Linked DNA regions of Homo sapiens: region 2 is linked to region 1. The links come from fine-mapping of genetic effects on gene expression. A gene starts in region 1. The other region holds a variant in brackets. All regions are shown on one strand. Distances are from middle to middle.

What was found. PIP is the estimated chance that this variant, and not a neighbour inherited with it, causes the effect.
Region 2: its variant is the best candidate, but not a certain one, in a credible set for the expression of DECR1 in whole blood (TOPMed, PIP 0.71).

Annotation. Positions count from the first base shown.
Region 1 is chr8:89,998,974-90,003,372 of GRCh38, reverse strand. DECR1 (2,4-dienoyl-CoA reductase 1) reads right to left here and starts at 1,896. Exons shown (of 10, transcript NM_001359.2): 1 at 1,812-1,896. The coding sequence starts at 1,880. RefSeq lists enhancers at 1,270-1,409, 2,258-2,552 and a silencer at 1,880-1,979.
Region 2 is chr8:90,036,673-90,041,071 of GRCh38, reverse strand. It overlaps DECR1 (2,4-dienoyl-CoA reductase 1), which reads right to left. Exons shown (of 10, transcript NM_001359.2): 6 at 4,132-4,231. Among named protein-coding and RNA genes, the nearest start is that of DECR1, 37 kb to the right of the region's middle. The variant C/T (reference allele first, on the strand shown) is at 1,747.

The DNA.
Region 1 (4,399 bases):
GAAATGAGGCCTATTAGCCAGCAGCACAATTTAACACAGCACTTCACAAACAGGTTTTATAACAAATTAAACATTTGCCTTGGTTCTTGGTAACAAAAATATTCAAATTAGGGGTTTTAATTATAACAACTTGTATTTGCCCACAAAAACATGATGTTCCCTGGAACAACCTCCCACATCACAGATGTAAAGACTTTTCTTCTCCCAGGAATTCAAACTTGAGGCTACATGTGCTAGGAAGGGGACAAACCACACTAACAGGTACCTCTCTTGCCTCCCAACCCTGAACCTCAAAACTTCCATATTTTTCTTCAGCAAAGGAATTTCAAAATTGTCAGATTACAATTAATTTTTAAATGAGTTCATTTTCTCCTTCTCAAACTGTATTGTCTAATGGTGTCAGAAGAGCTTGGATAAGGTCTGTATGACCTTATTGCTACAATCCTAATGATGTGTGTTAAAAAATGAAATCTCTGAAGACATCACAGAGCTGTTGTAGATTTCAAATGAGAAATGTCTCTGAAAAGTATCAGAAAATATGGGCTTCCTTTATAATGATCTATAACCCAGTTTTCACAGGGAGAGAAAAAAAATCAGCAAAACCCTAACCCTGAACAAATCTCACTTTTTAAAAGAAAGATACCTTACTTGAGGGAACCACCATACTAATTCTTTGTATTCCTATTTGGAACTACTGCTGCCCATATTTTTTGAAAAACAACACCATGGCTGTCTATTCTATCAAATCAAAAGAAGTTTTTTCACAGTTGACATATTAATTTTTCTACCTGGCTAAAGAAAATGTGCTTTTTAGTTTACTTATAACAATTTTGTAATTTAGATGTGGGGAGGGCTTGTCTTGGATATTATTGCTTCTTTTTGTTTTTGTTTCTCTTTCTTCTTCCTAGCTGTTTTCACTTCCTAGCTATTTCCACTATGGGTGCAATGGAGATGGTGACAGGAGTGTGGGCCAGAGAGAGGGGGAAGCCAGTGTGAGACGGACCTCTCCCAGCTATACATCTGGGAAGGGGAGTCTATAAACAGCTGGGGTTTTGTTTTTGTTTCATTTTTATGATAATTTGTTTGTATTAGTGTTTAATTCCATAACTAACACATAGATGGACTTTCCTCACAACAAAGGACGTCAAAGGTCAGTGCTCGCTCGGCCTGATCCCCTCTCACTCCTTAAGGGGTGGACGGGCGCCGTATCCTTCCCTACCTCTTTCTACCTATTTACACACAAGTTGGAAACTTGCAGAACTGTGAAAACTTCGAAAATCACGTCTCTTCCCTATTCCCCTACACACATCAGGGCTTCATCTGACAGTGGAATACGACCCGGGCCCCGGTGCTCACTCCCGGCGTTGCCCTTCGCTCCGGGACCTGGTGGTCCTCTCTCTCTGCGCCCCAAAACGCCCTGTCCTAGCTCCCTGAGCCCCAGGGACGCCGGGTCCTCTCTTTGTGCCCCAAGACTTCCTGCCCTTTCTCTTGCGCCCCGAGACGTCCTGTCCTCTCTCTCGCTCCCCGGGTTGCTCTGTGCTCTCTTAGCGCTCCAGAACGCCCTGTCCTCTCTCTTTGAGCCCCGGGACACCCTGTCCTCGCTCCCCGAGGCCCCGGGACGCCCTGTCCTCTCTCTCTCTGCGCCTCGGGATGCCCTGTCCTCGCTCCCCGAACCCCCGGGACGCCCTGTCCTCTCTCTTTGCGCCCCAGGATGCCTTGTCCTCGCTCCCCGAGCCCCCGTGACGCCCTGTCCTCTCTCTTTGCGCGTCGAGACGCCCTGTCCTCGCTCCCCGCGCCCCCGGCCGCCTTACCCTCCGAGGAGCGAGGCCACAGGGCAGCCGGGACCCCAGAGTAAAGAAAACCCTGGCCGGTAGCTTCATGTTGAGTCTCCAGAACTCGGGCCGGAAGGCGGCGCAGGCGGTTGGGCGCAGGGGGCGGGACAAAAAGAACAAAGTTCTCGGGGCTGGAAACGCTGCCTAGGCCGCCGGGGGATGGGACGGGGACTGGGACCCAGGCGGCGTGGACGCCCAGCGGCCCTGACCTTCAGAGTCCGGCCGAGGGCGCCGCCTAGCTGGGCCTAGCTGATGCTCTTTCCTGCTCTCTGGGCCAGGAGTGCTTTGTATGGCAGAGAATGGAGGTTCTTTGCGTCCTTGAGCGGGTGTACGAAACCCCGCGCCCTGCAAGGGTTTGCAGATTGCAGCTGCGCACCCCATACACTGCCTATCAAGGGCGAAACTCTTTTTCAGTCGTATGTGTTTATCCCTTAAGTGCGTGTTTAAGTGCAGAGTGCGCGTGGCGCCAAGTCACATATTATCAGAATAATAATATGTTGGATGTAAAACACGGCCTCACTTTCCCTAAGACCAAGAGGCTGAAAAACACTAAGGGCAGCTTCCGGCGTTTTGACTTTTCGCAGGACACACCGCCCCCTGTCGCCGGATGCAGCGTGACTGCGACCGCCCAGCCTTGGCTTTTTTCTCGAAGTTAAACACACGTTAAAGGCAAACACAGATTCAGTATATCATTCTCCATCTTAGTGTAATATACCTGTTGACACAAGGCATTAGCTCAGATCACATTTCTTTCCTCATTCGTAAAATGAGAATATTCATAGCTAATTCAGAATTTTAGATAAAAGAAGATGGGTGTGAGGCCCCAGGCTGAGGCTGATGGTAGATGATATTGAGTGTTTACTATTTGCCTGGCATGTTCCAAATGCTGATAAAGAAACATTTATATCTTCAGAGGAATGTACACTTACATGTAGACATATAGCTTATAAGGTATATAAACTCTGAAAAACTTTGTAATTTTGAGTTGGTCTGGTGATAATTTCCAGGCCTTCTGCCTGTAACTGGTTACAGAAATAAAAACTTTCTTCATCCCCAGTTCATCGACATCTCATTATTGGCAGCAAGAAATAGCAGCCTGACCCTCAGTTTGGTCCAGGAACAAAACTACCACAGATTGGGTGGCTTAAATGGAAATTTGTTTTCTCACAATTCTGGAGGCCACAAGTCAGCAGAGTTGGTTTCTTGTGGAGCCACTGTGGGACCATCTTCTCCCTGTGTCTTTACATGATCCTCCTGTGTACCTTTCCATATCTAAATTGCCTCTTCTTATGAGGACACCAGTCGTGTTGGATTAAGGCCCACCCTCAATGACCTAATTTAACTGGAATTACCTCCCTAAAGACTCTATCTCCAAATATAGCCACATTCTGACATACTGGGGGTTAAGAGTTCAATGTATATATTTGGCTGGGAGAAGAGGGAAGTACACAATTCAGCCCAGAACACTTGCCCTCTTAAATAACTTTTAGACCAGCTTAGGAGGCATTTTCTGTCCTCCCAAAAAAACCTTGAGAATATATCAATAATAAAACTTTTCCTAAGCTCTTGATATATGTATGGCACTGTTATTCTTGACTTCCAAACCAAATTGTAAGTGGGATTCATCTTGTTTCTAAAAAGAAGTTGCAACATTAGTGATACGGTTTGGATTTGTGTCCCTACCCAAATCTCATGTTGAATTGTAATCTCCAGTGTTGGAATTGGGGCCTGGTAGGAGGTGATTGGATCACGGGGACAGATTTCTTCCTTTGGTGCTATTCTCCTGATAGAGTTCTCAGGAGATCTGGTTGTTTAAAAGTGTGTGGCACCTCCCACCCTCTCTCTTCCTCCTGCTCCAGCTGTGTAAGACAGCCTGCTTCCCCTTCATCTTCCACCATGATTGTAAGTTTCCTGAGGCCTCTCAAGTCATGCTTCCTATATAGCCTGCAGAACTGTGAGTCAATTAAACTTCGTTTCTTTATAAATTACTCAGTATGAGGTATTTCTTTATAGCATTGTGAGAATGGAGTAACACAATAAGTAACTTAAAACAATTAATCATTTATTATCTCACAGTTCCCAGGAGTTAGGAGTCTAGGCACAGCTTAGCTGGATCCTTGGCTCTGGGTCTCAGAAGACTGCAATCAAGGTGTCAACTAGGCTGTTTTTATCTGGAGGCTCAGCTGGAGAAGATCTGATCCCAAGCTCATCCAGATTGTTTGCAGAATTATTTTCCTCATAACCATATAACTGACAGCCCCACATTTTTGCTGGATGTTGGCTGGAGTTGCCTTCAGCTTCTAGAAGTCACCTCCATCCCTTCCCATGTGGGCTTCCTCAGCAGACTGCTTACTACATCAAGCCAGCAAGGACAATTCTGTACCTCAGGGAGGCCCCAGCCCATCTTTTAAGGACAATCACCAGATTAAGTGAGGCCCACTGAAAATAGTCTTAACCCCTTTTTGATTAACTAAAATCAACTGACTTGGGACTGCAAACCAAAAAGTGACTGAGGCAGATCTCTGTGGGTTAGCGATCATTTAGCCAAGGTTGAGAACATGTCTGGG
Region 2 (4,399 bases), 38 kb before region 1:
GTTCAGCCATTGTGGGAGAGAGTGTGGTGATTCCTCAAGGATCTAGAACTAGAAATACCATTTGACCCAGCCATCCCATTACTGGGTATATACTCAAAGGATTATAAATAATTCTACTATAAAGACACATGCACACATATGTTTATTGCAGCACTGTTCTTAATAGCAAAGACTTAGAACCAACCCAAATGCCCATCAATGATAGACTGGATAAAGAAAATGTGGCACATATACACCATGGAATACTGTGCAGCCATAATAAAGGATGAGTTCATGTACTTTGCAGGGATGTGGATGAAGCTGGAAACTGTCATTCTCAGCAAACTAACACAGGAACAGAAAATCAAATACTGCATGTTCTTACTCATAAGTGGGAGCTGAACAATGAGAACACATGGACACAGGAAGGGGAACATCACACACTGGGTCTGTCAAGGGGTGGAGAGCTAGGGGAGGGATAGCATTAGGAAAAATTCCTAATGTAAATGACGGGTTGGTGGGTGCTGCAAACCACCATGGCACATGTATACCTATGTAACAAACCTGCACATTCTGCACATGTATCCCAGAACTTAAAGTATAATTTTAAAAATGCGCTAAGTTCTATGAAACTATCAGACATCCGTTAATAGTCTTATAGCATCATTTCAAAGGCCAATTCAGTAAAACCAGTTCTACAGAATAGGGTACACGTAATCTCAAGATAGCCTGTTAATCTGACTTAATCCATGAATGTATTTTAGAGAAATGGGTGGGCTGTATCTCTTTCAGACAGAACATACATAAAAATTGCTTCTCTGAGTGATGTTTTTGACAAAGTTCATTGCCATAGCTACCCTGGGCATTTATTTATAGTGTATCTACTCTAAATTGCTTCATGTCTTAATAGAATTACTGTACTGAGCAGAGTCTATATTATCCTATGAAAAACTGAGCAACCTGTTAAGAAAATCTGCCTAGAGGAAAAGCCATCCTCTCTGTGCTCAGAGGTGTGCCAGATACATTTGTTCAATTGCTAGCATGATCTTTCAACTGTCATTAAGCTAGCTGATATACTGAAGAACTACTGTAATCTGATAATGAATCCACCTCATACAGTTATCTCTGCATGTTAAGATGCTAAGAACAATATATGCAATATGTTAGCCATTATTATTGCTCATTCAACCAATGTTTATTATATACTTACCATGTGTCAATACTATAAATATTGCTTAGCCTCAAATAAAGTCAGTCCCTGCTCTCAAATGAGAGTCCCTCCCTCTCAAGAGAGGTGAGCCTGGTTATATAATGAATCAGTTACTAGGCTGGGAATTGTGTGATGTAAGCTATACCTGCTTAAAAGAAGAAGAACCTAAGTGGGAGTGACAAGGAAGGCTTCTCTGAAAAGGTAACATTCTGAGCTGATGGGTGAAGAAGGATTAGGAGTTTGCTGCAAGAGGCAGGGGAAAGGAGGAGCTGAGAGATTAAGAAGGTAGGATGGTGACATGGTTTGGCTCTGTGTCCCCACCCAAATCTCACTCTGAATTGTAATAATCCCCACATGTCAAGGGTGGGACCAGGTAGACATAACTGAATCCTGAAGACAGTTTTCCCCATGCTGTTCTCATGATAGTGAGTGAGTTCTCACAAGATCTGATAGTTTTATAAGGGGCTTACCCCTTCACTTGGAACACATTCTCTTTCCTGCTGCCCTGTGAAGAGGTGCCTTCCACCATGATTCTAAGTTTCCTGAGGCCTCCCTAG[C/T]CATGTGGAAACTGTGAGTCAATTAAACCTCTTTTCTTTATAAATTACCCAGTCTCAGGTATTTCTTCATAGCAGAGTGAGAACGGACTAATACAGATGGAGAAGGAAGACAGCCAAGGCATATGGGTCAGTATGAGTAAAGGACAAGGGCCCAAACAACATGTAGAATTTGGGAACCTATAATGCCTTATTTAGTAAGACTGTGTACTATAAAGTATGAGAAGAAGGTTGATGGGAACTCAAGCTGTAAAGGAAGGCACATGTTTAATGAGCATCTATTATATGCAGGAACACAATAAAAGCAGCACCAAATCAGTTCTTAAAGGACATGAGATAAAAAGCTCTAACAAGACTGAAGAGTCCTCACAAAACAAATATTGACATTGAACAAATGCTGCCAAAATAGTCAAGTTCTCATCCTTTATTTCCAACACTACCTGACCTTAAAAAATGGTAATTATCTCTTTTCAGACTAAGATTCAGCTTGTGAATAAATATTTCTTTCTATCTCAAACTAATGTGTATTTACTGACTTAAATATTAAAAATGCTCTGGGACTACTAAAAGAAGAGTACCATAATTCAGCTCAACAAGCATGAAGCACCAGCTACGGACCAGACTCTTCTGGTCCAAGTGGGGAAGTCAGATTGTTTAATGTTACGTTAATGGAGGAAATCCCATCTCTACTAAAAGTACAAAATTAGCCAGGTGTGGTGGCATATGCCTGTAATCTCAGCTCCTTGGAAGGCTGAGGCAGGAGAATCGCTTGAACCCAGGAGGCACAGGTTGCGGTGAGCCAAGATGGCACCATTGCACTCCAGCCTGGGCAACAAGAGCAAAACTCCGTCTCAAAAAAAAAAAAAAAAAAAAAGGCCCGCGATGCCCTGCTCTCTCTCTCTGCTACATTGGTATATTACCTTCATTTTAGAATCTATTTATTAGTGTTTGTCCTCTCACTAGATTGGATTAAACAAAGTTTTAAGGCACAGAGAGGAGGAAATGATTACAGAGAAAACATCTCAAAGGAAGTAAGCAAAACATCACAGCAAAATTCCAACAACAATATAACTCAGCCATAGACATATGAAAGCTGTATGGTAAGTTTAGGGAAACATGGAACAGTTCAATGGAAATTAAAGCATGGAAATAATAAATGGAATAGTAAAAAAATTTAAGCTCAGCTAACAACGAGGACTGTTCTATTTCCATCACTATCATATCCCTAGGACGAAGCATATATAAGGTACACAATAAATATTTATTGAATAAATAAATTAATTAACAATGGCCAGAGACAAGTCTGTTTAGAATGCCATAGTGAGTTCTGGCTTTTATTCCAAAGAGTGACAGGAAATGATCTAAGATTTTTAGCTGGGGAGTGTCGTGAGCAGACATATATGTTCTTAGAAAGATAATTCTGGTGAAAATGTGAATACAAAATACAGGGGGAAGAGACTGGTAGTAAAGAAATATACCATGATTATAGCAAGCCAGACAAGCAATGAAATGATGAGAAGCCCCATTATAATAAAGACAATGGAAAAGGCCAGTGGAGGACAAATTCAAAAAGCAATCATGGCTGGGTGTAGTGGCTCATGCCTGTAATCCCAGCACTTTGGGAGGCTGAGGCAGGAGGATTTCTTGAGGTCAGGAGTTCCAGACCAGCCTGGGCAACATAGCAAGACCTCATCTCTACAAAAAAATTTTAAAAATTAGCCAGGCGCTGTGGCACCTGCTTGTAGTCCCAGCTACTTGGGAGGCTAAGGTGGGAGGATCGCTTGAGTCTGGGAGATTAAGGCTGCAATAAGCTGTGATTGCACCACTGCAATCCAGCTTGGGCAACAGACTGAAGTCCTGTCTCAAAAAAAAAAAAAAAAGCAGTTATACTCTGCTGAGAAAAGGCCACTGGACTTGGGAAGTGCTCATAGTCTGTGTTAGTCCCATTAATCTTATACAGTATCTACAATAAAAGAATAAACGTGTGCTTATGAGAGGGGTTAGGGATGGCACTGATAAAGATCTATGGGAGAGCAAAAAAGCTATAGTCCTGTGGTGTCTAATATGTAGCCACTAGCCATATACAGCTACTAATTTTTAAAATTTAGTTTCTCAGTCACAGTGGGATATTCCAAGGGTTCAATATCTACATGTGGATACTGGATAGTGCATATTTACAGAACATTTACATCACTGCAGAAAGTTCCACAGGACAGCGCTGCTATAGACAAATAGGACTTATCTGGGAGATAAAATGTATGTCTCATGGTGAATCCAAGTCTTTGTTTACTTTTCTCTGGATGGACACCAGAAAGCAGGAATACAGTTCCCTGAGCCACCAACTGTATTAGTTATGTTCAGCAACAGGATTGACAAGGAAGTACTTACTTGCTCATGGCTTCCACACCTGCTTTGGCAGAAGCACTTGGTACTACAAAACCTGAACCAGTCTCAGCATAGATAGTAGTAATAGAAAGAAATGCTGCTCCTGAAATTTTAAAAGGATACAGTTGATTAGCAATATAGATGTATCACTACACATAAGGAAAACATTATTTATAAAAATGGGATCTGATTAAAGAGGGTATAAGAAAAACTAAAGTATTTTTTAAAACTTCACTCACTCTAAATTAATGAGAGAGTAACCTAAGAAAAT